7 separate regions of the Homo sapiens genome follow, and regions 2, 3, 4, 5, 6 and 7 are each reported to be linked to region 1. Evidence: microRNA targets listed by miRTarBase, many of them from high-throughput screens and not tested one by one. Region 1 holds a microRNA gene; each other region holds the end of a gene's coding sequence. Distances are between the middles of the regions.

Region 1 (4,204 bases):
ACCCACTCTGCCAAGTGCGGCAGCCTCTGTGTCTAGATGTTCCCGGGAATTCTCCTCCCAGCACAGGTCCTGTAAGCACTCCCCTCCAGCCCCTTTCTCAGCAGACACACACAATGGGGTGTGCACTGATGACACATTCAGCAGTTCTGGGCCCAGACCTCTGGCCCCACCTGCTCTGAGGTCCCCGGGGGGAGTTTTGTCCAAGCCCTCCCAGAGGCCACCACTAGCCTGCACCTAGCACCCCTGGCTGACTGCCCCGGACCCGCCCACCAGTACCCAGCAACTTCCACCTCCACAGGGGCGAGAACACAGGCTGCTCCTGTGGCTGGGCACTGGCGAGTCTGCTGGGGGAGGGGCCGGTTTTCTGCACTGAGGTTGGGTTCCTGGAGGCGTACCAAGGTGGAGGTCTCTGTTCCCACGTGACACCGAGGAAGGGTGGAGAGATCGGGGGCAAGTGTTGGATGCAGGGGGTGACCCCCAATCCTGATGCTAGCTTGGTACAGCCCCACAGCCCCCCTTCCTGGCCCTGCTCAGCCCAGTAACCCTGTGTCACTCCTTCAGGCATTCCCTGAGTCCCTGGGAGTCAGGGCTGTGGCCCTGGGCCTGGTGCCAGTCTCCTGCCGTGACAACCAGGTGCCTGTCGTGTAGGCAGCTCGCAGTCAGGACCTGCAGCCTCTGAAAACCCTGCACGGTGCTGCCTATTGGCTACGGTTCAGAGAGGGCCAGTTAGTTGCCCAAGGACAGAAGCAGGACTCAAACCCAGGATCCGCTTGACCCAAAAAAAACATTGCTGAATGAGGCCTGGCCAATCCCTCCAGGGAAGACAGAGAGCACAGAGCTACCTTCCAGGCCTGTGGGAGTCTGGGAGTGGCCCAAGCCAGGGGCGGGGCAGCAACAGGCTTTAGGACTTGAACCAGCTCTCCTCCCACAGGACAAAGACAATTCTGGTGCCACAGTCTTGCATCTGGCTGCCCGCTTCGGCCACCCCGAGGTGGTGAACTGGCTCTTGCATCATGGCGGTGGGGACCCCACCGCGGCCACAGACATGGGCGCCCTGCCTATCCACTACGCTGCCGCCAAAGGAGACTTCCCCTCCCTGAGGCTTCTCGTCGAGCACTACCCTGAGTAAGATCACCCCTCTTAAGGGGTCCTCTGGGTGGGCTGGGCCAGGGCTTTGGGGGATGCCTGGGATTTTCCACGCCTCTCTGGCACTCCAGGGCAATGATCCCTCCAGTGGCCATCCTGGGGCCAGAGGGCCAGGCCAGAGAAATGGCTCCCACTCAACATGAAATTTTCCCCTCCTGGAAAACCCCTTCTGGGGCTGCCCCCAGAGCCCTGCAAGCAGGTGCTCCCAGCATCCTCAGCTGCCCGGCCGCACACAGCTGGACCTGGGAGGCTGGGCACACAGGCCAAGGTCACCTGTTCCCCTTGGGCTGCTTCTGCCGCAGGGGCTCTCTCTGGCTCAGGCTGTGCTCATTTGCAAGACTGTTCAGGATGGAGTCGGGGGCAGCAAGGGCAGGAGCGCCTCCTAGGCCCTAGTCAAACAGGCAGAAAGGGAACCCCATCAGTTACCAAGCAGTTAAGGGAGAAAGGCCCCTCCCAGACCCCCACCCCACCTCCTGGCCCCAGAGCCCCTGGCTGGAGGCCATCCAGAGAGCATCTTGTTATCTCCTGTGGCCCCTCAGCCCGTTCCTACTATCAAGGGAAGCATGGGGATCCCAAACCTCCTGGGGAGTGGGCTGGGAGCTCCCCTGGGTGGGGTGGGGGGTCACACAGAGCAGGGGGCATGTGTGAGTCTTGGGGAGGGAGGGAGGGAGGGAGGGACTCAGGTGTTAGGTGCGCCTGGGGAGGCAGGGATCCTGGGGAAAGCTGCCCAGGGCCTGTCTGAGAGGGTAGGGTGCCAGATGCCACAGGGGTCTGAGCGGGGAGTGGGGTGCTCTGATGGGTGACCCTCATTAGTCTAAGTGGGAGCCTGAGATGTAAATGTGAATGTGGACCCAGCCTCAGGACGAGAGCAGCTTTGGTATGAATTCACTGCTTCCAAACAAACTAGGATTTGGATCATGTCAAAGTCAGTGGGATTTAGACTAGGAGGGCCCCAGGGACCCTTGAGTAGAGGGTTCCAACTGGCTCCTGTCAGCACCTCTTGGAGGCTGTCCCAGATTCCTGAGTTAGACTCTCCAGGTTGGGGCGTGGGAGCCACACCTGGGACATGTCCCCACCCTCACGGCGGTGATTCTGATGCACCTGTCCCACCCCCTCACTTCAAGCAGAGGAGAAGGACAGGTCTTGAGAGGGGCAGGTGCCCCTGATGGCGGGACCAATATGGCCCAAGTGTGAACTGGAGGACGCTGAGCCCACCTTCTGCAAGTGCTGGTGGGGACCGCCAGCCCCTGAGCCTTCCTCACTGAGAAGCCGTGATCCCTCCGTGGGCTGGATCCCAGGTGTTAGGAAGACTGGCTGTGCTGTGGAACGCCCTCCAGGGCTCCGGGGCTGGGGGACCCTGACCCCCTCCCAGGCCATGCCAGGTGCTGTGTGTGATTGGGCGCTGGTGCTGACTCAGTGGCCAGATGGCCTGGACTGATGAGCTGCCAGCCCCCCAGGAGTCACCATGAATCTCAGGGAGGTGGACAGAGGGCTTGGGCTCCGTTCCCCACAGCAGCATGTGACTCGACTGATAAGAAGGTGTCTTTGTGTGGTTGCCAGGCTGGGCTCACGCAGGAGGGGCAGCTGGGAATTGGGGTTGGGGGCTGGGGTACCCACTTAACCTCCTACCTTGGGGGTAGGGATTCCTGCTCATCAAGGCTGTGGATATGAGGGCTGGGAGCTGGGGAGGGCAGAGGCTTGAGCTGCCCCAGGACACAGGGCCCCATCAGGGGACCCAGGTGGCCCAGCTTCATGCTCTTGTGAGCCTCTGGGGCCTGCTGTGAATCGTTGTGAATTATTCACAAGGCTCAGCTCTCTCGCTGGCGCGTGGGTGAGCACTGAGGGAGGAAGGGCTCCCGGACCTGCTGGTGGGAAACTCGATCCTGCCAGGGAGGCTGTGGGTGGCCACGGGACGAGGAAGTGACACGCTGCAGAGGAGCTGGAAGGCTGGACAGCCTCGGGGAAGCTCAGCTAATTCCAGGTCTATACCTTGGGGTGTTATAACAGAAAGCGCTTGAGATTGCAGGAATGTCCTGCACGTCCCCCACACCTCCCCGTCTGTCCCGTTCATGGGGCCAAGTCTTCCCAGAAGCAGAGGACTTGTCACACTGACCTCAGGGGCTGCTGCCACGCGGGACCCTCCCTCTGAGCCCTTGTAGAAAAGAGATCTCTCATACAAAATTAGCCAGGCGTGGTGGCGCATGCCTGTAATCCCAGCTACTCAGGAGGCTGAGGCAGGAGAATCGCTTGAACCCGGCAGACGGAGGTTGCGGTGAGCCAAGATTGAGCCATTGCACTCCAGCCTGGGCAACAAGAGTGAAACTCTGTCTCAAGGGGGAAAAAAAAAGAAAAAAAAAAGGCATCTCTCAGTTGGGAGGCATGGGGCTGGCAGGAGCCGGGCTGGGCAAGTCCCAGGCTCTGGGTCTCAGGGAGATTGAGTTGGGAGGATTGGCCCTCCCGGCAGGAGCTCCAGTGGCTGATGGAGGGGAACAAGGGGTCCAGATCCCTAATCAGGGCAGAGTGAGGAGGGGCAAAGAGCAGGTGGCCCCAAGGCCGGTGGCCATCCTCCCAGGAGGGTCCTGGAGCCCAGGAGCTCACTCTGTCCCCCTCACACCTGCTTCTGGCTGCCCCAGGGCCTGAGCAGCTGGGCAGGGCTGTGGGGGTCAGGGAGCTGGGGATCAGTTGGGACCCTGAGGCTTAAGCTTCCAGGCTGGGGAGTGAGGAGGCTCCAGGCTCTTCCCCTGGGCTCGTGGGTGCTGCCAGTCACAGCAAGCTGGAAAACCAGTTAGCCCAGAGATTTTATCAACTTCAGCAGGTGCCTCCTTCCCCGAAAGCCTCCCCTACCCCCGACCAGACTAGACTGGAATGGGATTGGAAAGTACCTGGGGCTGGGTACGGTGGCTCATGCCTGTAATCCCAGCACTTTGGGAGGCCGAGGCAGGTGGATCACCTGAGGTCAAGAGTTCAAAACCAGCCTGACCAACATGGTGAAACCCCGTCTCTACCAAAAATACAAAAATTAGCTGGGCATGTGGCCGGGCTATGCCTGTACAGGTGG
Region 2 (3,000 bases), 2.7 Mb from region 1:
CTGACTAGAGATACCTGATGTATAACTTTTTGGAGGTTTTTACAAAAGCAGATACAGTGGCCAGTGGCATCAAAGAAATGGAATGAGAACTTGAGCCCAGGCACCCGGAGCAGGTATTTTCTGAGCCCTCAGCTCCCTCTACAGGCCTTTCCTGACCACAGCCAGTCCATCTGGGGAGCCATGTCTCAGCTCTGGCTTGGGTACAGCAGGGAGGGCTCCAGAGGCCCCTGCTGAGCAGGGTTGATCCTAACACTATTCCTCTGTGGCCTATATTGTCTTTTCTCTTTTACCTGTTAATCATGTTCTCTTTTGCAGCAAGCAAATTCCTGAATTTTCGCTCCCTTCTAGAAGCTCAAGTGAGGGTCTTTACCAGAGACATACCCAGAGATTTGCTGTAACGTCTTCAGGGGAATCCAGAATTCACTTACAGAGGCTATTTCTGCCAAGTGGCTTTCCCTGGAGCAGCCCAGAGCTCTCTTTCAATCCTAAGGGGATGTCTGTCTCACTAATTTCCATCAAGAAATCTGTTTTCTTGGACAGGCACAGTGGCTCATGCCTGCAATCGAAGCATTTTGGGAGGCTGAGGTGGGTGGATCACCTGAGGTCAGGAGTTCGAGACCAGCCTGGCCAACATGGTGAAAACCCGTCTCTACTGAAAATACAAAAAATTAGCCGAGCATGGTGGCGCATGCCTGTAATCCCAGCAGCTTGGGATTGGGAAGCAGGAGAATCGCTTGAACCTGGGAGGCGGTGGTTGCAGTGAGTCAAAATTGCACCACTGCACTCCAGCCTGGGCAATAGAGTGAGACTCCATCTCAAAAAAAAAAAAAAAAAAAAAGAAAGCGACAAAAAGAAATCCATTTTCACAGGAAACCAAAAATGAGCATTTTGGACTCAGTCTGCTAAATGATTATTCCTTTCCTGATACAGATTTTGGTTTTGAGAGTCAAACAGGGATCGGCAGCACAGCGTGACTTCGGTTTTGATTCAGAACCATTTTACTAGGCTCAGAAAATCATGCTTTGTCGAGTTCTGATGGATTCCAAGGGAAATCACCTATCAGGTAAAGCTGTACTTTCTCTCACCAAGACCCTGGAGGTAGCATTTCCACTTCCATTCTTTGCCGATGGCTCCTGTGACTGAACACAGAAGCTGTTTTCTGAAATAAGACGAAAGCGTTTGTGGAAGACCCACAGAATAAAAATAGAGATACAGGTGCTTACTTTCAATTCTTTTCTTTTAAATGTAAATAATCGCTCCATGCTCCATGCCGCCACTTACCTCAGCTGAATACAAAACAGCTGAATCCTTTTGAATCCTTTGTTTTTTTCTTTTTTTGAGACAGGGTCCTGCTGTTGCCCAGGCTGGAGTGGCAGTGGTGCCATCCCAGTTCAATGAAGCCTCAAATCCCTGGGCTCAAGGGATCCTCCCGTCTCAGCCTCCTGAGTAGTAGGGACTACAGGCACGCACCACCACATCAGCTCCGGGCGACAGAATGAGGCTCCTTTTTTAAAAAAAAAAAAAAAAAAAAACTGACTCTGAAGCTTAAAACCTTCACCTTTAGGAAGAAATCGTATTTGTTTGTTTGAGACCGAGTTTCACTCTTGTTGCCCAGGCTGGAGTGCAATGGTGTGGTCTTGGCTCACCGCAACCTCCGCCTCCCAGGTTCAAGAGATTCTCCTGCCTCAGCCTCCCAAAGACCTGGGATTACAGACGTGCATCACCATGCCTGGCTAATTTTTGTATTTTTAGTAGAGACAGGGTTTCACCATGTTGGCCAGGCTGGTCTTGAACTCCTGACCTCAGGTGATCTGCCTGCCTTGGCCTCCCAAAGTGCTAGGGTTACAGGTGTGAGCCACTGTGCCCGGCCTGAGGAATCGTATTTGGATTACTCATCTCTCCGGCCACTTTACTTACAAAAAACTAAACTAAGAAGTAAATAAGCCAGAACCCCTCCCTACTCATCCCCTTTGGTCTCCCCAAGAAGAGGAGGATTCTAAGAAAGGAGCTGGAGAGACAGTGGGGTCTTCGGGGGTTCCCTGAGACGCCTCTTCCTGCCCTTGTTCCAGCTTTGGAATTGGAAGGAGGGAACCTGTGTCTGAAGTGATTGACAGGTGGGGACAGGAGTGTGGATTCTGGCCTGTGCTTGACACTCAAACCCAAGCTACGGCAAGGGTTAGCAGCCCATGGAGGGAGAGGCCAGGAGGCCCGGGGAGACTGCTGTCCCTGAGCAGCTGCGCCGGGCTGTGCTTGCCCCTGGTGGTCACCATGCAACCTCAGGGGAACCTTCAACCTGGTGAATGGCAACTGGTTCCTCTGTTGAGCAAAGTCTCCAAGGAAAGCCGGGTTCTCCAGAGAATCTTAACACCCTGACCAGCCGGGAATCTGCTCCATGATGTGTGGATGGGGACACATCTCTGAGGGCCCCTGACAGCTTATTTAATCACACAGAGGATAGGTGCACAGATGTGGGTCCCTCAGATTGTAAACAGTGCTGTGTGGTCCTCAGGACATCAAGGTCCACTGGGTGGGGGCACTGTGGCCACAGCTGTGGGCCACCGGCTTCCCGAATCTCACTGCTACCCTTATGCAGATGAACGCCCACCCGTGGGCCAGGACGCTGGTACCGGTGGAACTTGCTGCCTGAGGATCTAGGAGGTAGAAGAAGCTGAGTTGGCAGCTGCTCTCCCAATGGAGCCGAGAGCATCAATAGCGGGGGCTTCTGGTGCAGCAGACATGCACTTCTGCCCCTGCAGCAGGGACTCACAGAAGTGCCTACCCCCAGGAAGGCAGCACCTATGCACAGAACTAGAAAGGACAAAAGCTCAGGTGCTTGGAAGTTCCCCTGGGGTCCCTTGGGATTCCTGAGATTCTCCTGGCTTGGAAGGCGCGGGAGCCTTGGGAGTGCCAGCCGGGCTCTTGGTGGGAGGCTGAGAAGAGCAGCAGCAGCAACAGAGAGAGAAGAGCCGAGTTCGGACGGCGCGGGTGCAGAGGACGAAC
Region 3 (4,204 bases), not on the chromosome of region 1:
TCAAAAAGGATGGGAAAGCACTATTCTGATCTAAAGTACTATTTAATGTTAAAGGTACTCTAAATGCTACAGAGGTTCAGAGAAGAGAGGGCTCCGGGTGACTGGAAGAGTCTGGGAAGATCCAGCAGAGGGAGTTGGGGAGCTGGGAGTACTGAGTCATATGCTAAACCAGGTGCTGCAGTAAATAAAGCAAGATGGAAAAGTGCACATGCTGACCACTGCACCCAACACCGCCTCAAGCCTGGGCCACAGGGAGCTCCCACTGACCTACTTTCACCCACTAACTCCTCACAGTCTATGGAAGAGTAACACAGTGGGTCTCAGAAACACATACAGTGTTCACAAGTGCTTTACAGAAGACACAGAGCAAGCAGAGATGGTCTCTGTGGCAAGGCTGGCAAGAAGCTCAATTGCTGCAAAAGTTATTAACTCTGGGTTGGGGTAGAGGGCAATGGACTTTTTACCATTTTTCAGAGCTGACCTGTGAGGATGGCTAGATACTGCAAGAGGATGCCTGGAGGAGGGAGAGGTAAAAGAAATGAGCCAGTAATTTCTTGGGTAATAGTTTTCCTAGATAATGTTTATGAGCATTTGCTATGTACTTGATGTTTTCATACTTAAAAAAAATTAAACCTCACTATGATCCTATCAGGCAGGGACTTTTGTCCCCACTTCACAGATAAAGAAACTGGAGATTTAGAATTTGAAGCCAGGTTGGTCTGCTTTCCATAGCCCATGATCTTAACTGCAAGCTAAACTTACAGGGTCGTCTGAGAATCTCTGTTCTTCCCTGTGCAGTTGAAACAATCAATGTGGCTGTACTTTTGTTGTAAGACCTGGCTCTTTCCGACTCGCTGACGTTTGCCATGCTTGTCCTGAGCTTCTCCAGAGAAATGCTGTCTTCTGGCAGGAAAAGATAAAAACGGCTGATATAAATGAGTCACCACACTCGCTATAATTAACAGTGATGCAAGAGCCAGATGCAAAATAAGAGGGGCCTCTGGACCTGACTTTTAGGCTGCCCAAACTTTGAGCTGCACTTCAATGTAAAACAGTCTCCATAGCTAGGCTTCCATCTGTTTGAGACGCATTTTAAATGAAGAAATAAAACCCGGAATGCATGCAAGCCCCAAGATAATGGAGCTGAGAGGGGCTGCACCAAATTAATCTCCTTATTTACAATTCAAAAACCATACACCAGAACAGAAAGAGAGTTTATAGTTTATAGATAATATAGATCTTTGCTTTCACACTCAGTTGCCCTGGAAAGGCTGAGCAGTTTTCAATCTGCTGAGCTGATTTATAGCAAGTACAGCTGTAAATTCAATTGTACTAGGTGTTCAGCCTATGCCCTCCCAGTGATGTATCTGAACTTTTCAAAAGGACTAGTTGTCATTAACATCTCTCTATTTTCTTTTGCTGATCTGGGATGATGGGATGCAATGACAATCTGCTTAAAATAAACCTTAAAACCTTAAAACATAATCACCACATCATCCACAAACCCCATTCAACCACAGCATGAGCACAATCACTCTGTAACACAAGGTGAAGATATTCTCTGTTGCTTCTAGGACATATAAGTCCCTCCTGAAGTTTGACAGAGAGAAATAAATTGTGGTCAGGACCTGGATAGGCTCACTAGTAGCCGTCGATGTCGGTGGCGTCTTCTCTTACCTGTTTAAAAGAGGCTCAGTGGCCTTGAGATTTGAACACAATACAGCTGATGGAATCTTGCCACTTTCCTTTTGAATAGACTTTAATTGAGAGCAAAGTGAAAAATGCAGGTTACAATTTTAAGTGTTATCATCAATATCTTGTAAGATCAACACCCAGTGATGCATCTAGTACTTATACAGTCCTAATTTTAGTTGTCAAAGAGCAAATCATTATCAGACATATATTTACACAGTAATTTCAAGCAACGGTAAATAATAAATTCCCTCCCTTAAAAAACAAAACACAACACAACACACACACACACACACACACACACACACACACGACCATCTTTAAACAATGGATTTCCTCACCCAGTAAGTCTCATTTTTTTCACATATACTTGTAGACCCAAAGGTCCTTAAGTTACTTAAAAACAGTCTTATCAGTGGAGATCCTGGACCATCCCCTATTTTCTTTTAAAGTCACTTTCATTTTTACAACTTGAAGCCATATACCAGCATGGTTTTTATACACTAAGGACACTCCCAGTGATGAAAATGAATTCCCCTCCATTTGTGCAAGGAGGTATGTACATCTATAAAGACACATATGATTACCACTCAAAAGAGTCAAAAACATACACAAAAAAATCTCAGATCTTCATAGTTTCTTAAGAGCAGTGTGCCAGTGTTCACATTGAATTAACTGAATGGTAAAATTCTTTTAGATTTCTATACAGAGGTACTGGTTAGTTCTGATTTTTTCTTCAGCTGCTTGAAATGCATGAGCTTTAAAAGTTGCCTGGCAGAACTACATCCTGCTTTCCAGGTTAGCAGCCTGGCTGACCTCGGGAATGTTAGACAAGATTCACCCCCGATGCCTTGCTCTCTGATTTATTTCTTGCTGTTGCTGTTAGTAAATGGAAACCATGACAAAGTTTACATTAGCAGACACATACACATGCCCTGGCCTATAAATATTCCATGATAGAAAATGGTACAATAATTCCATCCCCAGCGAAAACGAGCATAAAAAAAGAAGGGAAGGGTCAGGGGGACATGATCAGCTATGGCTCTTCTTACAGTAGAAAATCCACACCAAATGGCAATGGGCTTTTAACTAACCAGACATTGTTAGCTGCTTCTCCAGGGCCTGTGAGTCAACTAAAAGTAGGCAGGGCAGAGACCAACTCTTCCAGGCACACCTGGTAGTTTCCAGAAGCACCGGTATCTTGTCTTGGAAGTTGGATGAAGAAGATCAACTGAAGTTTCCTTTTTAGTGAGGAGGAGTGGAGAGTCAGACTTGAAAGCAGTTCACACACTGTGCTGCCTGGGACACTGAACGGTCCCCGAGGGAGACCCCTCAAAGCGCCAGCTGGAGTTTGGTCATGTTTCTCTGATGCATGTTGTGATGGCGGACTAATTCATCTGACCGGGCAAACTTTTTCTGACAACTTGGCCACCGACAGCTGAAGGGCTTTTCACCTGTTGACACAATTGCCAGTCAGAGACACTTGCAACAAAGAGACAGGCACAAGTTCAACTATCAAGGCCCGAGTGAAGTCATCACAAGGCACCCACTCTGAATTTCCCATCATTCTGTCCCTGAGCTAACCAACTGAGCTCATTTCCCAGGCAGCCTTGAAACAGCAGCACCTCTTGGGGCTTTAAGGATCGAAATATTGTAAAAAGTTATATTCTTAGGTCAGAAAACTTGGAAAGTGGGAGATAAAGAATGAGTCAAGTTGGGGGAAATGTCTGAGCAATTCATAATTAAGGGGAAAAACGTTTGTTTCAGTCTCTGCTGATAGAATGTTTTGTGAACTGTGTAAATTTCTCCCCCTTGTTGAGTAAGTTGGGAACTGAGATGAACTGGGCTGCAGAAGCCTCTGGGTCATCTACCCTGGGTATTACTGAGTGATCACTGTCCAGGGATCTCAGCTGTGACTGAAGCTTTTAACACTTCTATCTGTGTAGATACCCTGGATGGGCTGGATACTTTAAAATAAATCACTGATACCAGTTTACATGTTATGTGTTGTTTTTTTTTTTCTCTTAAAGTGTTACTGAGAGCATAATCCTGTTATATGGAAGATTCTAGTTGGGGCGTGGTTCTTAGATTTTTAATAAGCTTGCCAAAAGATTGAGGCTTCTCCACCCAAAGAGCCCTCAGACATTCTTTCCAAGCCTCATTCTCATTAGGGAGAATAACTACCATTTATTTGATGCTTAACATATGCCAAGCCTTGTGCTGGGCTTCACACACGCACACACACAACCTCATGTACTCCTTACAACTGCCCGTAGGGGAAGCGTTATTATCCCCACTCTACAGATGAGGTAGGACATCTATTGAGGGCAGATCCAGGCAGAACTCAAATCTCCAGGTCTGTCGAATTCCAGAGCCCGTGCTCTTCCCTGTATCACACCTCCCAGGCCTAGCCATGATGGAAAAGCAGCTGCAGCTCCATCTTAAGGAAGAATGCACAGAAGCTAAACCCTGTGCCACCTGACGGATCTTCTCAGATACTGCTGGTCCCACT
Region 4 (3,000 bases), not on the chromosome of region 1:
GAAAAAAATAATATAAGGATGTACATACCAAATATTAATAATAATGGCTATCTCTGGATAGTGGAATCAGAGGGATTATGTAATTTTCCCGATAAATTTTCCTGTCCTCCAAACAGCATCCGCTTCATACTATTATTTCTTGGTTGTAATTAGTTTGATATAATTCTCTTCAGAAAGGCTCTGTTTCACTATATATACCTCAAAGCATACTTTTGATGCAGCTTCTGCAATTCCCATCTAAAAAGTAGATAACACTTGCTCTTATATTCTGGCATATGAAGACTATTTGTAATTAACACACTATAAAATATGTCAAAGCAGGCCAGGCATGGTGGCTCACACCTGTAATTCCAAAACCTTGGCAGGAAGATCGATTGAGGCCAGGAGCTCAAGACGAGCCTGGGCAACATAGAAAGACCCTATCTTTACAAAAAAAACTTTAAAAATTAGCCAGGTGTAATAGCACATGCCTGTCTGTAATCCCAGCTACTTGGCAGGCTGGAAGGTCAAGGCTGCAGTGAGCCATGATCATGCCACTGCACTCCAGCCTAGGTGACAGAGCAAGAACTCATCTCTAAAAAAAAATTTTTAAATAAAGCAAAATATGCCACAGCATAGATCTGATTGTAGAAAATTATTATATGGAGAACTGAAAAATCTCCTAATCAAGACAAAAATTTTAAATAGAGGAAAAAAATACTATCTATCATTAGTTCAAGTTTCCATTAAGAGTAGAGTGTGAAGTAGCTCCAAGTTCAGAGCTGGAGAATTTTGCATCTCTCCCTCTTACCAGCCAATTGACTTTAGGTAAAGAATACTAGAGTTTTTTAGTTAGTAAAATATAGTTAATAATTCTGTATAAAGGAGCAAAAGTAAGTTTCTCATTGTTTCCTATCTCCCTTCATAGGTTTGACATGTTGAAATTGTGAAATTATTTAATGTTAATAGTTTTTAACTTCTTTAATTATGTAAAATAATTAATTTTTAAATTATTTTAACAGTTAAAACACAAAGCATACTTTTCATGGAACCAAGTGTTCCAAACACAAAAAGGTCATTCTCTGATGGCTCCTGATAACATACAACATAAAATATAGTTATAACAAATATAATTTAGAATTTATATTTCAGAATCCATCCTGGTGTAAAGCTATTTACTATAACCTTACTAAAAATACCAACGGTAAGGATGTTGGATCTTTTAAAGGTAAAACATCAGAGAAAAGAGAAAAAGACCTGTTTGTCCAATTCTCTGTGCTTTCCATGCTCTAGCACCATCCCAAAGTTGCCTCCTAACTTCTGTTCCCTCCCTGGGAAGGGAAGTCCAGGCAAATCTGTGATCAGTTAATAACTTTTAACAATTGTTTGCCATTACATCTGAAAGTGAACAGTTAATCACTTATTGTTATATCTCAAAGGTAAATTTCACTATCTAAATGCCTAGAGGTAACTGGAAGATGAAAGATACATAAAGGTTTGATGAATAGAGGGGAAAAAATGGGGGGGAGGGTTGTTTCTGTTTTTCCAATGAAAAGGTTTGCTCCTTCTCTCTGCAAAATCTTGGAACTGAGAAAGCCGTCTGGAGTGCAGATGGAAAGCATGCATCAAATTGATGTAACTACACAACATACTCCTGCCCTACACCAGGTTCATTCTGCCACCTCTATCCCACTCTACGAATGTCCCATTTGCCACAGCCTAACTTCTATCATAGTTCTAATTCCTCAGTGAAGATCACAAGAAAGGTACTTCCAGGTTGTTAAAAGAAACGAGAATGTTACACCAACACATTTCTGGGGTGGAAGGAGACTACTGACACTCCATATTTATTGCTTACATTACAAGAATTAAACAAAAAAAGCAGACTAGAAAATCACTTTCTGTAATTTCACAATCACCAATTTGCAACAGAAACTGAAGCATAATATTTATGCTAACAAATATGTTGGATGAATTATCACCTCAGCACATAACTGCAGATGGATACTCCTGGATTTTCACTTAATCCATTACTCAATGATGAACACTATAAAATGAAAGGTGACATACTTATGAACTAAAATCACAAGAAGAAACTCTCCAAGATCAATCTTAAATGAGCTCCTATTCCAATAAGCCATAAAGAGCAGTAAAAGGCAATATTCATTTAACAGTACAAGAATCTCGATGACAAGAAATCAGGTATTTATATTCCTCTAGAGACATTTCTTCTCCACCTAACAAAGGCACTTGACATGTACTGAAATGGACAGTTAATTCAGGTACTGCCCTGGGCAACTGTTACCTTGCTAAAATTAGATGAAGTGGTGATTAAGTTCAAATTAGTTCTCCCAAATAAGCCTGAAACACACATGAATAGATCATAAGTTCTCTATTTTTGGCAGATGATATAACCAAGAAGAAAAGCTAATGTTGGTATCCATGCTGAACTGGCTGACTTAAGCAGTCAAGGATACTCTCTCTGCACAATATATTCCTTGATGACTATGGAATGTATATATAATTATAGGCAAATTAACCTTTCCTATAGTTTCAGGTATTAATGTTCATTCCTCTTCTTGTCTTTTCTTACTTTTTTGTTCTTTCCCAAAGCCTTAGATGACTCCTCCTGAAAAAGACACAAATCAGTGCAGCATCTCTCCATTTACATAAAGATGAAATCTTCAATCTAATCACTTAGAATATATTTACACATATATATTCCACATATATTCATACATATATGTATGTATGTATATATGTTACAGTGAGGGTATAATCACTTTTATATGTGTCATTTCTGTGTTTTAAAGGGTACTTTCACTTATAGGCTAATATTTTTTAAACAATCAAGAATAATCAAGGAAACCTTATTTATCTAGTGGATTTATGTTTGAATAATTTCAAAATTATTTCATCTATTGCCCCACTTTCCCAAGGCAGTAAAATTTAAATAAGGCAGATATGAACATACCTAAAATATAAAACAAAATAAACTCAAAGTATAAAGGAAGAAAGCAT
Region 5 (3,000 bases), 2.6 Mb from region 1:
GTCTGTGGCCACAGGTTCTGCACCTGGTCCGTGGGTAGGAGTGCCCCTCCTAATGCAGGTCCTGTGCTTGCTCTGCAGGGAAAAGCTCAGCTGTGGCCGCATCAGGCCCCTTGGGGTCAAAGGCCGGAAGCAAGATCCCCACCCCGAAGGGCGGACTGAGCAAGAGCTCCAGCAGGACGTACGCCAAGCGCTGACGCGGCGCTCGGGCTCCTTGGTCTCTGTGAGGGATGGAGCGGGTCTCCTGATTCTACACCATCTCTCCAGAACTCTCTGGCCTTGGTGGCCCCATGCTCTGGCTGCTGTCCCCAGCTCCCCGCCGTGCACGCCTCTTACGCGTCTGTGCCGTCAGCTCTCGTGCAAACGATATGGATGCAGCTAACCAAAGATCCTGCGTGCAGTGCCAGGACCTGGCCGCACTGTACATTAAGCCTTCAGGGCTGTCTCAGGCCTTCCTTAGAATCAGAGAAGGAAGCGTCCTGTTTGGAGAGAGCCAGAGAGCACCGCCGGGAGGCGCTCGCGCAAGGCCACGGTCAGCACAGGCACGGTCCCGCTTTCCTTAGTGCTTGGAGCAATTTCCATAAAACATTCACCAGAAACCTTTTGCACATCGGTCTCTGCCACACGCAGTAGAATTTCCGCAGGGCTGTGGCTCGGCCAGCAGCGGTTCCAGGAGAGTGGCGGTGCGCACGGGCCTCCAGCCGTGCCTTCCCCCTGCAGGCCCCGTCTGCTGGGCCTGCTGCCCAGTGCACTCAGCCCCAGGTAGCAGAACTCACGTTCCCACTATAGCAAGAAATAAAGGCAAAAGAGAACATCTTTTTTTTAATCGTAGTTTTTTTGAGAATTGGTCCCACCTCAGCCGCACCTTGCTGGATGCTTCTCCAGTAGTGCTGCCCCTGTGACAGGCATCAGCTCCCTGCTGGAACTGAGGTAGACACAGGTGTGGGCCCTTCCCGTGCCTTTGCTCAGAGGCGCTTCACTTTCTCCACACTTTCGAATTCCTAAAGACATGTGGAGGAAGTCACTGTTAAATGAATTTCCACCTGATCACCCTGTGTTCACAGCAGGCAGAAGCCCACTGGTATGGGCCTCCCGCCCCTTCCACATCCATGTTGTGATTGGATCCATAAGTTTACTTTCTTCAAAGAGTTGATAGGATGTTTAAAACATCAACACATTGCTTAAAATGATGAAACCAACCCTCAAAAAACAGTCTCCTAACCAGCCATCCCCTCCTGTGGGAGTGAGCTGGGGGTTTTGTCCATAGCTTTGGTTGGGCCTGTGTCACATCCAGGCAGCCATGTGGAGGGAGTCAGGGTCTGTCTGGAAGCATCCACCCTCTCGCTGCCCCAGCCTGTGCTCCCAGGGGCCTAGGCTACCATGGACTGAAGGGCAGTCCCCTCCCACCTGGTGCCCAGGGCTTCTGCTTGCCTCGCTGATGTTGCATGGGCAGACTTCAAAAAGGATAGTTAGAAAGGTTTGGGTTGATGGAGTTTGCATTAATGCAATTAGTGTATAAATATGTTTTAATTGCCAACCGTGTGAAACAACAAAATATCTAAAAACTAATCCCGATTTGAACAATGTACTCCCTGGCCTGGATACATTAATAACCATAAATTTGCATGAATTAATCTCCACGTTTGGTAAACTAATACCTCTGGTTGACTGAGAATACTGAGTAAGATATAAGACCTACCAGGAACCTTTAAGAATATGCTCTGCTCAGTGTTGTTTGTCTGCTTGTTTGCGACGGAGTCTCACTGTGTCGCCCGGGCTGCAGTGCAATGGCGTGATCTTGGCTCACAGTAACCTCCACCTCCTGGGTTCAAGCAATTCTCCTGCCTCAGCCTCCCTAGTAGCTGGGATTACAGGTGCACACCACCATGCTCGGCTAATTTTTTCTATTTTTAGTAGAGATGGGGTTTCACCATGTTGGCCAGGCTGGTCTCGAACTCGTGACCTCATAATCTGCCCACCTTGGCCTCCCAAAGTGCTGGGATTACAGGCGTGAGCCACCACGCCCAGGTTAAATGTGTTTATAAGGAGAGAGGAGGCCAGGCGCGGTGGCTCACGCTGTAATCCCAGCACTTTGGGAGGCCGAGGCGGGCGGACCACCTGAGGTCAGGAGTTCGAGACCAGCCTGGCCAACATGGTGAAACCCCATCTCTACTAAAAATACAAAAATGAGCCAGGCGTGGTGGCCTGTAGTCCCAGCTACTTGAGAGGCTGAGGCAGGAAAATTGCTTGAACCCGGGAGGTGGAGGTTGCATTGAGCCCACATCATGCCATTGCACTCCAGCCCAGGCGACAGAGCGAGACTCCGTCTCGAAAAAAAAAAAAAGTATAAGGAGAGAAATAACTTTAAAGTTTATTAGACAAAACAGAGTATAGATGCCAAGATGTCTGTAAAATGATTTTTTCTGGTTTTAAAGAGATGTTGGCCATTATTTTCTAATCCATTTTTAAAATACAGACAAAACACTTCTTTAAACAGAACAAGAATGAGAAAAGTTAACCAAGGAATTATTCTTTTCTCACCAATCAACACTTTTAAGAAATATATATATATATATACACACATATACACATGCCTTCTATATATTGTAACTTAAAGAAAATACTTATAAAAAGACTTCATTTTTAGTGATTGACAAGCAAACGGGTTCATTTAAAACAGGTTCCTCTTTTGTTAGTTACAGGGGGTTTTTTTGTTGTTTTTTTGTTTTTGTTTTTGTTTTGCGGGGGTGGTGGGGTTTGAGACGGAGTCTTGCTCTGTTGCCTAGGCTGGAGTGCAGTGGCGCGATCTTGGCCCCCTGCAACCTCCGCCTCCCGGGTTCGAGCAATTCTCCTGCCTCAGCCTCCCGAGTAGCTGGGATTACAGGCGTGTGTCACCACGCCTGGCTAATTTTTTTGTATTTTTAGTAGAGACGGGGTTTCACCATATTGGCCAGGCTGGTCTCAAACTCCTGACCTTGTGATCCACCCACCTCGGCCTCCCAA
Region 6 (4,204 bases), not on the chromosome of region 1:
TAGGGGAGCGGGCGGGCAGATGGCTGTGTCTGTAAGCGGGAGGCGTGCCCGGTTCATCCAAGGCGCAAGATGGCGCTGCTTTTTGCACGTTCTTTGCGCTTGTGCCGCTGGGGAGCCAAACGATTGGGAGTTGCCTCCACAGAGGCCCAGAGAGGTAGGATTATCTCTTTTTACTCTTTTACCTCCAGAATGGCTGCCGTCTATTATTCCCAGACCCCACTCCGAGAAGCAACTCCAACCCTCTCGGGTCTTTTCCTTCCCCACCTGCCTTGGTCTTAAGATTCCAAACCTGTGATACCATTTGGTTTCTTTAAATTCCGGGACTTACTCAATCCGAGTTTTTCAGCTCCGTGAGCTATCCGTAGTAAAGCGACCTCGCGACTCTCTTGCCCGCTTGGCATTCTGACTCTTCCCTAGTTGCTCGTGTATCATGGCTGCCTGCCTCATATCTGAATATATCACCAGCCCTAGGGTTCTAGCCCCTGTTATTATCCCGTCTTTTTGCTCTGCCCGCAGGCGTCAGTTTCAAACTGGAAGAAAAAACCGCCCACAGCAGCCTGGCACTCTTCAGAGATGATACGGGTGTCAAATATGGCTTGGTGGGATTGGAGCCCACCAAGGTGGCCTTGAATGTGGAGCGCTTCCGGGAGTGGGCAGTGGTGCTGGCAGACACAGCGGTCACCAGTGGCAGACACTACTGGGAAGTGACAGTGAAGCGCTCCCAGCAGTTCCGGATAGGAGTGGCAGATGTGGACATGTCCCGGGATAGCTGCATTGGTGTTGATGATCGTTCCTGGGTGTTCACCTATGCCCAGCGCAAGTGGTACACCATGTTGGCCAACGAGAAAGCCCCAGTTGAGGGTATTGGGCAGCCAGAGAAGGTGGGGCTGTTGCTGGAGTATGAGGCCCAGAAGCTGAGCCTGGTGGATGTGAGCCAGGTCTCTGTGGTTCACACGCTACAGACAGATTTCCGGGGTCCAGTGGTGCCTGCCTTTGCTCTCTGGGATGGGGAGCTGCTGACCCATTCAGGGCTTGAGGTGCCCGAGGGCCTCTAGTATGTCCATTACTGGAGTCCCTAATCACGCCTTTGGCCAGCCTCCTTTTGAAAGTGTCCGAAGCCTTTTTACTTTGCCTCAAGCAACCTCTAGCTCCCACAATTCAGTGTTGGGTCCTCTGTGCAATATCATGATCATCTTCCTCATCCCCTACCTTGTGAAAGCTAGGCATACAGCCAAACCCTCCTTTTCCCCACCCACCAACTACTGCCAATTTCCTAGGCTACCATGGGTGTATCTTCCTTGACCTGCTTCCTTCAGTCCCTCTGCCTCCCTTTGCCCAGGCCTTTCTCAGACTGTATTCCATCCTGGGGTCTTATCATTCAGCTTTGTTTGAATTTATTAATCACCATGATACCTCTCCCTCCCTTTGTCCACATGTAACTTGTTCTTGGGGCTCTACCAGATGGCTGAAGAGTAAATCCTTTCTACCTCTGGCTGAAGGAGTGGTGCAGTCAATGACTTGGCCCTTTTTCTACAGCACATTTAGAGTTTGGGCTCTGGCTCCCTCAGTAAGTGCTTTATTAACTCAGTGTGTCAAAATGAAAACAGAGCCCTCCTTCCCCAGTAGCTCAGTGCCACAGACCTTCAGCCCCACACAGCTGTAGCTATCCTTACCCTGAGTCCATCTACCTTAAATCTGTACCTCTGACACCCAGCCAGTCTGTCATAATCATTATCCCAGTTATAACCTTGACCAAAGGGGAAGAGAGACACTTGGGGGATATCTAGGGGATGAGTGCTAGAAACTATTTATTTATTTTTGAGACAGAGTCTCACTCTGTCACCCAGGCTGGAGTGCAGTGGCATGATCTTGGCTCACTGCAAACTCTGCCTTTTGGGTTCAAGCGACTCTCGTGCCTCAGCCTCCTGAGTAGCTAGGATTACAGGTGTGTGCCACCATGCCCGTCTCATTTTTATATTTTTAGTAGAGATGGGGTTTTGCCATATTGGCCAGGCTGGTCTCGAACTCCTGGCCTCATGTGATCAGCCCACCTTGGCCTCCCAAAGTGCTGGGATTTCAGGCGTGAGCCACCACACCCGGCCAAAACTGTTTATTCTTGAGAAGTTCCATCTTCATTTCTGCCACAGTTGGAACTTCCCGAGGAAGGAAGGAGGCCTGAGGTTTTGCACAATCTGTTTCAGAGCCTGTTTAGACTCAAACCTATGCTTCCCTTGGCAGCAGAATACACTTAACCTAAAGCAGTATTTGGAGTTGAGAAAAACCTGGTGGGGTAAGTGAATATGTACTGTTTGGTAGGGTAGGTAGAGAAGCTGTGCTTTGACCCTGTGATTCCATCTTTTTCTACCTTCTATGATGGTGATGAAGCTAGATACCCCTAGGGAAGAAAGAAGGACTGGGTTTAGCAAAAATGATTTGGTAATTAAAGTTTATTTGAACACAAAATACTTTCTCTGTCTATAAAATTGGCTGTTAGCAGTAGCAGCAGCATGTCCTGGCCAAGGGGAGTAGATTTCTCCAGACTACTAAAGCCATGTATATAGCCATTCCCACTTCCCATATTCTGTGGATATGTACATGTGCATGGTAGCTAGAGTCCCTCCACCAGAGTATCTCTCTCATGATGGTTTCTTCAGGGAGAGGAAGAGGAGACCTGGGTGAAGAGCTGGGATGGTTTTGAGTGGGGCAAGCCATTAGGCTGTACCTTGAAGCCCAGTCTCTCTGGATAGCTGTACTGCAGGTGTCCTCTGAGGCCCTTCTCTGTACTCTGTCTGCTGAGGGAATGGGGTATTTTGACTCCCATAGAAAGCACTAGCCTAAGTCACCAAATGACTGCTTGGTCCCCACTGAAGCAGTGTAGCTCTCCATAGTATTTTTGGTGGTTATGGATTACATGTGTGGCCAGCTCATGCTTTTTCTTGAGCAGGGGCTGTCCATGACCTGTGCTCATACCATGCTTTCTAAGTTCTCTTTGGACAGGGCCTCAGCTGCTGCCTCAGCCTGAGTTTCAGAGAGTGTGTAGGAGTCCTGGTAATCTTGAAGCAGTTTGACCACCTCCAGATGGTTGAACTGCACAGCATCATCCAGGGGAATGTTGCCCCACCTGAGAGGAATAATGATATGATCAGGCAAAGGAGACGTGGAGAGTGGTGGTTGTATATATTTGCATGGTGGCTGGAGGGTAGGTGGAGAAGCTGTGCCCACCCTCCTCCACTTTTAGCCTATTCCTCACCTGTCCTTGGCAAAAGGATTCACTTTGCAAGCCTCGATCAGGAATTTAACAACTTCGATGTGTCCTAGGAATATGGGCAGAAGGAAAATGAGAAGGCGCAGGTCTTGAACCCTTTGGTGCAGACACTTAGCCACTGAAGTCTTTACCAAGAGGGGAGGGGAAAAGGCCTCTTCCCATTTTGTACCCTGCAGCACTCAGTCATAGTCTAGCTGCAAACCGAAGGGTGTCTAGATAAAACTAGTTGCTGCCCCTATAACCTTGAGGGCACATATAATGAAGGTACTTTTGGTGAAAAAGAAAGGGTCTTATGATTACCCTCCTCCTCCCCTCCTTAACCCTTCAGTACCTTCAGCTGCAGCAACATGCAGAGCTGTGCGCGAGTCATAGTCTTTCTGTTCCATATCCATGGCTGACAAGGCAAACCTGAGGGTAGTGGGAAAGCAGCTAGAGTTGCCTAGATCAGACTGGAATCACAGGTGTTCTTTGTGAACTGGTGTCAGACTGGATGAGTTTCAGAGAAAGTGAAACAGCCTATAGCCAGATTTGTTGGCTCTGAATAATCTTTTTTCCATATCCAGATGAGACTGTTATACTCATATTAGAGAGATGGGAATGTGATCCTTCCAGAAATATCACTCACTGCCTACCTGTGGTAAGTGCCCATTTGAGGCAGGGTACCTACTTCCTAGGACACTGCTCTTAACACTCAATAACAATGGCTAACATTAATTATCATAGAGCAGACAGTTTACTTTTTTTAAAAAAAATCTCCTTTTTTAAAAAAATTTCATTTAAATGCAATCTATATCCATTCTAATTCCAAAGCTGAAGCACTTAACTATTTTGTTACGCTGCCTCCTAGTAAAATCTCTGACCAGGAGTATTTTATTGTGTATATTTGGTCACAGTAGCATTACCTTCGAAGAGCTGAGACATCGCCACTATAGGCAGCAA
Region 7 (4,204 bases), not on the chromosome of region 1:
GCTGCTGCAGGGACAAACCTTGAAAACATCATGCTAAGTGAAACAAACCTGACAGGCCGGGTGCAGTGGCTTACGCCTGTAATCCCAACACTCTGGGAAGCCGAGGTGGGCGGATCACTTGAGGTCAGTGGTTCGAGACCAGCCTGGGCAACATGGTGAAACCCTGTCTCTACTAAAAATACAAAAATCAGTTGGCACGGTGGCGGGTGCCTGTAATCCCAGCTACACAGGAGGCTGAGGCAGGAGAATCGTTTGAACCCGGAAGGTGGAGGTTGCAGTGAGCAGAGATCGTGCCACTGCACTCCAGCCTGAGTGACAGAGTGAGACTCTGTCTCAGAAACAAACAAAAAAACAAACAAACAAAACCTGACAGAAAAGAGCATGGGCCAGGCACGGTGTCTCATGCCTGTAATCCCAACACTTTGGGAGGCCGAGGCGAGTGGATCACCTGAGGTCAGGAGTTCTAGACACACCTGTAATCTCAGCTACTCAGGAGGCTGAACCCTGAGGTCAGGAGTTTGAGACCAGCCTGGCCAATATGGCAAAACCCTGTCTTTACTAAAAATATAAAAATCAGCCAGGTGTGGTGGCAGGCACCTGTAATCCCAGCTACTCAGGAGGCTGAGGCAGGATAATCCATCGAACCCGGGAGGCAGAGGTTGCAGTGAGCCGAGATTGCGCTACTGCACTCCAGCCTGGGTGACAAGAGCAAAACTCTGTCTCAAAAAAAAAGAGGATGTATTGTATGATTCCATTTATACAAAATGCCCAAAATAGGCAAATCTACAGAAAAGAAATTAGATTAATGATTGCCAGGGGATGGGATTAGACTGCTAATGGGTGCAGGGTTTCCTTTGGGGTGATGAAAATACTCTGGAATTAGATGGTGGCGAGGCCTGCACAACACCATGAACATACTAAAAACCACTGAATCATACACTTTAAAATGGGCATGGTGGCTCACGCCTGTAATCCCAGCACTCTAGGATGCTGAGGCGGGTGGATCACTTGAGGTCAGGAGTTTGAGACCAGTCTGGCCAAGATGGCGAAACCCCGTCTCTACTGAAAATACAAAAATTAGCTGGGCGTGGTGGCAGGCGCCTGTAATCTCAGCTACTCGGGAGGTTGAGGCAGGAGAATCGCTTGAACCTGGGAGGTGGAGGTTGCAGTGAGCCGAGATCGCGCCACTGCACTCCAGCCCGGACGACAGAGTGAGACTCTGTCGGGGTGGGGTTGGTGGAGTGAGAAATCAGCGCAGATGGCTACTCCCAGCAGTAGTGAAGCAGCAAGGCCAGGTTGAGCTGGGCCGGGTGCCCTGAGGTCAAAGGAAAGGAAACCCCAAGCCCCAGTGGCTGCAGAAGGCAGAGCTGGATGGAGGATCCGCGCCATGGCCCTGCCGGCCCCCAACCTTGGGTGCCCCTCGAGGCCCTAATTCCCTCGCTGCATTCTTGGCACCCACTTGGGTTCCCAGGAACAGCAACTAGGAGTGGCTTCTGTTCCCTCAGCAGCTCTCCCTCTCCCTCTCAGAGACTGGAACCCTAAAGGGAAGCCACGAGGCGGGTAAGGGAGGGCGGCTCCTTCTGCCAGGGCAGAGGCAGGGCAAGGGCATGGGCATGGGAGGCAAATCCTGGCAAGAGCTCGGGACTATTTCTTCAGGACCGTCTAGTTGGTGTCTCAAGGGCAGGGGCCATGACCAGATCAGGGAGAGGCCACCAAAGGGGGCTGAGGCAGACGGGCCTGACCTCCTGGGCACCCTCCCACCCTCCGTCACTGACACGCCCCCAGAGCCTGCTTGAGAATACCTGGGATGACAGATGCCTGGGGAAACTGGTGACACAGCTGAAGTGGGGTCTAGGGACGGTCAGCCAGCAGTCACTTGGCACCTTCCTGACAAGAGCAAAAAGGAACTGTCTGGTGGCAGAGGCACGCCTGCCAGACCTGTCTGCTCTGGTGTTAGCATCCCGCTTTCTCTTTGTCTGACTCTTAAATGCCTGCTCCGGCCCTCCCGGCCCTCCCAGATCATTTCCAACAGTCACACGACTGGTATCCAGGCAACCATTGCCTGGGCTCCCAAAATTCCACATCCGGAGGCTGACAAGTCATGGTGCCCCCGTGGAACACAGCTGGCTGCTTCATGTGTGGAGGAGCTGGGGGAGAACGGAAAAATCCACTCCCCACGCAGGGATGAGTTTCTAATTCTTGGCCTCAGAGGAGGTGCCTATAAAACTAATGAAATAAAACAGCTGCTCCTTGTGTTTAAAGGAAGACCTTTTACTGTACCCTGGTCAGGTCTGGGGCTCGATTCCATTTCACCGTCAGAAAGGTGAGAGGCAAAAGTTGGCCACTGTTAGGTCATCTATTTATCTCGGAGTCAAGGCATAGACACCAGCAGCTTGCTGCCCCCTTGCCCACTTCCCTGCCCTGACAGCTGGGGTTTGCCGGTCTTGGCTCTGGCATGTGAGGCAGGACAGCCTGCCAGCTTAGGGCAGGAAGCCACTCCACGTCTGGCCAGTGACAGCTTTTCCCCAGATGCCAGGACATAGGGGCATGGGACGTGCTGTGAACCCTGGAAGGCCTGACCCTGTCTGAGTGTTCTGGGCTGCAGGCAAGCCCTGGCTACTGCGCGACTTGGCAAAGCAGCTGCCACCAGGACTCCAGCTTTGGAACAGCCCAGCGAGGCGGCCCCCTCCAGATGGAGAGGTCAGGCTGGGACCACAGCATGCATGTGAGGAACTGCGCAGGGAGGCCCAGGCATGCAGCCAGTTGCTTGCTCTGCAGCCCAGCTCTAGGGCCCACCCAGTGCACCTCTGCAGCATAGAGGTCACTGGGGCCTTTGGGGGATGAGGAGTGGGGCTGAGAGTTACCCACTGGACAGGACTGGGGCTGGATAGAAACCCAGTGTGACTGACACTCTGCCTTCTCTGGACATAGGTCAAATAGGCAACATTCTTTGTCTACTACCAGGATAAAGAAAATAGAAGAAAGGGGCCGGGCGCGGTGGCTCACGCCTGTAATCCCAGCACTTTGGGAGGCTGAGGCGGACAGATCACAAGGTCAGGAGATCGAGACCATCCTGGCTAACATGGTGAAACCCCATCTCCACTAAAAATACAAAAAATTAGCCAGGCGTGGTGGTGGGTGCCTGTAGTCCCAGCTACTCAGGAGGCTGAGGCAGGAGAATGGCATGAACCCGGGCGGCAGAGCTTGCAGTGAGCCGAGATCTCACCACTGCACTCCAGCCTGGGCGACAGATCGAGACTCCGTCTAAAAACAAAATAAATAAATAAAAGAAAATAGAAGAAAGGTCAAACTCAGAAGTCACACTCAGAATTTAATTTCTCCAAAAGTTGTTTCTGTGTTTGATTCATGTAGAAAATCACAAAGCCTTCTCGCCTTTTCTGAGTGGGCGGGATCCACAGCTGGCTTACTTCTGGACACGGAGCATGGACTGAGAAGCAAGAGCTTCCTTCCAGGAGAGGCACCACTCAGAGGCAGGCCCGGCTGCACAAGTCCTCCCTGCTGGGCCTGGTCACTGCAGCTGCCCCTCCCTGGCTGGCTCCTCTCTCCTTTCCCACCCAACTGTTCACCTTGTCACAGGGCTATGTCTTGGCTCTTGGCTAAGACTTTAAGGGCCCACACAGCAGAGAACAGCAGAGGACAGAAGCCTCAGATCCTGACGACCTGCACAGCAATGCATGGGCTCTGCCTCTCTGCCCCGTCCGCTGCCGGCCTCCTAAGGTAGAGTCGGGCGAAGGTGCCTCCCACCTGCCCTTTGGTAAGGCGCCCAGGGTTCACACAGACACAGCCGAGGACATCCTGGGGAGGAGAGGAGAGGTGACAGGTTTGGAGAGCCTCAACTAACTGGGAACCAATGTGAAAAAGAAGTGCCATCACATGGCTGGACCCCAAAGAGGGTTTTAGAAAATGGAAACGAAGGCAACCAAATCACCAGACACATTTTCAGTCACTTTTTTTTTTTTTTTTTTTGAGATGGAGTCTCGCTCTGTTGCCCAGGCTGGAGTGCAGTGGTGAGATCTCAGCTCACTGCAGCCTCGACCTCCCGGGTTCCAGCGATTCTCCTGCCTCAGGCTCCCAGGTAGCTTGGATTACAGGCACCCACACCACCATGCCTGGCTAATTTTTGTATTTTTAGTAGAGATGGGGTTTTACCATGTTGGCCAGGCTGGTCTCAGACTCCTGACCT

What was found. Region 1 holds the annotated microRNA hsa-miR-4252 (GGCCACUGAGUCAGCACCA, at 2,550-2,568, opposite strand). A microRNA usually pairs through its seed, bases 2 to 8, with sites in the 3' UTR of a target mRNA and lowers its output. Matches are read on the target gene's strand: a 7mer-m8 pairs with bases 2 to 8, a 7mer-A1 pairs with bases 2 to 7 and ends in A, and an 8mer does both.
Region 2: the mRNA of GPR157 is a reported target of hsa-miR-4252. Seed matches in the 3' UTR shown: 7mer-m8 at 1,855-1,861.
Region 3: the mRNA of WT1 is a reported target of hsa-miR-4252. The part of its 3' UTR that is shown has no 7-base or 8-base seed match.
Region 4: miRTarBase lists IMPACT as a target of hsa-miR-4252. Seed matches in the 3' UTR shown: 8mer at 532-539.
Region 5: miRTarBase lists CEP104 as a target of hsa-miR-4252. Seed matches in the 3' UTR shown: 7mer-m8 at 2,793-2,799.
Region 6: miRTarBase lists SPRYD4 as a target of hsa-miR-4252. Seed matches in the 3' UTR shown: 8mer at 1,857-1,864.
Region 7: the mRNA of POLA2 is a reported target of hsa-miR-4252. Seed matches in the 3' UTR shown: 7mer-m8 at 2,341-2,347.

Annotation. Positions count from the first base shown.
Region 1 is chr1:6,427,295-6,431,498 of GRCh38, forward strand. MIR4252 (microRNA 4252) reads right to left here and starts at 2,602; the gene lies at 2,540-2,602. ESPN (espin) reads left to right here. Exons shown (of 13, transcript NM_031475.3): 2 at 932-1,125. RefSeq lists an enhancer at 1,264-1,383.
Region 2 is chr1:9,101,594-9,104,593 of GRCh38, forward strand. GPR157 (G protein-coupled receptor 157) reads right to left here. Exons shown (of 4, transcript NM_024980.5): 4 at 1-3,000. The coding sequence ends at 2,826. Among named protein-coding and RNA genes, the nearest start is that of GPR157, 26 kb to the right of the region's middle. RefSeq lists an enhancer at 2,506-3,000.
Region 3 is chr11:32,386,034-32,390,237 of GRCh38, forward strand. WT1 (WT1 transcription factor) reads right to left here. Exons shown (of 10, transcript NM_024426.6): 10 at 1,742-3,146. The coding sequence ends at 3,025. Among named protein-coding and RNA genes, the nearest start is that of WT1-AS, 47 kb to the right of the region's middle. RefSeq lists enhancers at 840-984, 862-1,210, 862-1,119 and a cis regulatory region at 904-921.
Region 4 is chr18:24,450,387-24,453,386 of GRCh38, reverse strand. IMPACT (impact RWD domain protein) reads right to left here. Exons shown (of 11, transcript NM_018439.4): 11 at 1-2,608. The coding sequence ends at 2,540. Among named protein-coding and RNA genes, the nearest start is that of HRH4, 8.8 kb to the left of the region's middle.
Region 5 is chr1:3,812,596-3,815,595 of GRCh38, reverse strand. CEP104 (centrosomal protein 104) reads left to right here. Exons shown (of 22, transcript NM_014704.4): 22 at 79-3,000. The coding sequence ends at 194. Among named protein-coding and RNA genes, the nearest start is that of LRRC47, 18 kb to the right of the region's middle.
Region 6 is chr12:56,468,523-56,472,726 of GRCh38, forward strand. SPRYD4 (SPRY domain containing 4) reads left to right here and starts at 56. Exons shown (of 2, transcript NM_207344.4): 1 at 56-154; 2 at 517-4,204. The coding sequence starts at 70. The coding sequence ends at 1,055. GLS2 (glutaminase 2) reads right to left here. Exons shown (of 18, transcript NM_013267.4): 15 at 4,168-4,204; 16 at 3,597-3,673; 17 at 3,251-3,314; 18 at 2,430-3,121. The coding sequence ends at 2,965. RefSeq lists enhancers at 304-353, 774-903.
Region 7 is chr11:65,296,732-65,300,935 of GRCh38, reverse strand. It overlaps POLA2 (DNA polymerase alpha 2, accessory subunit), which reads right to left. Exons shown (of 18, transcript NM_002689.4): 18 at 2,251-3,816. The coding sequence ends at 3,667. All of the region lies in intron 2 of LOC105369344 (a long non-coding RNA gene), which reads left to right. Among named protein-coding and RNA genes, the nearest start is that of CDC42EP2, 16 kb to the left of the region's middle.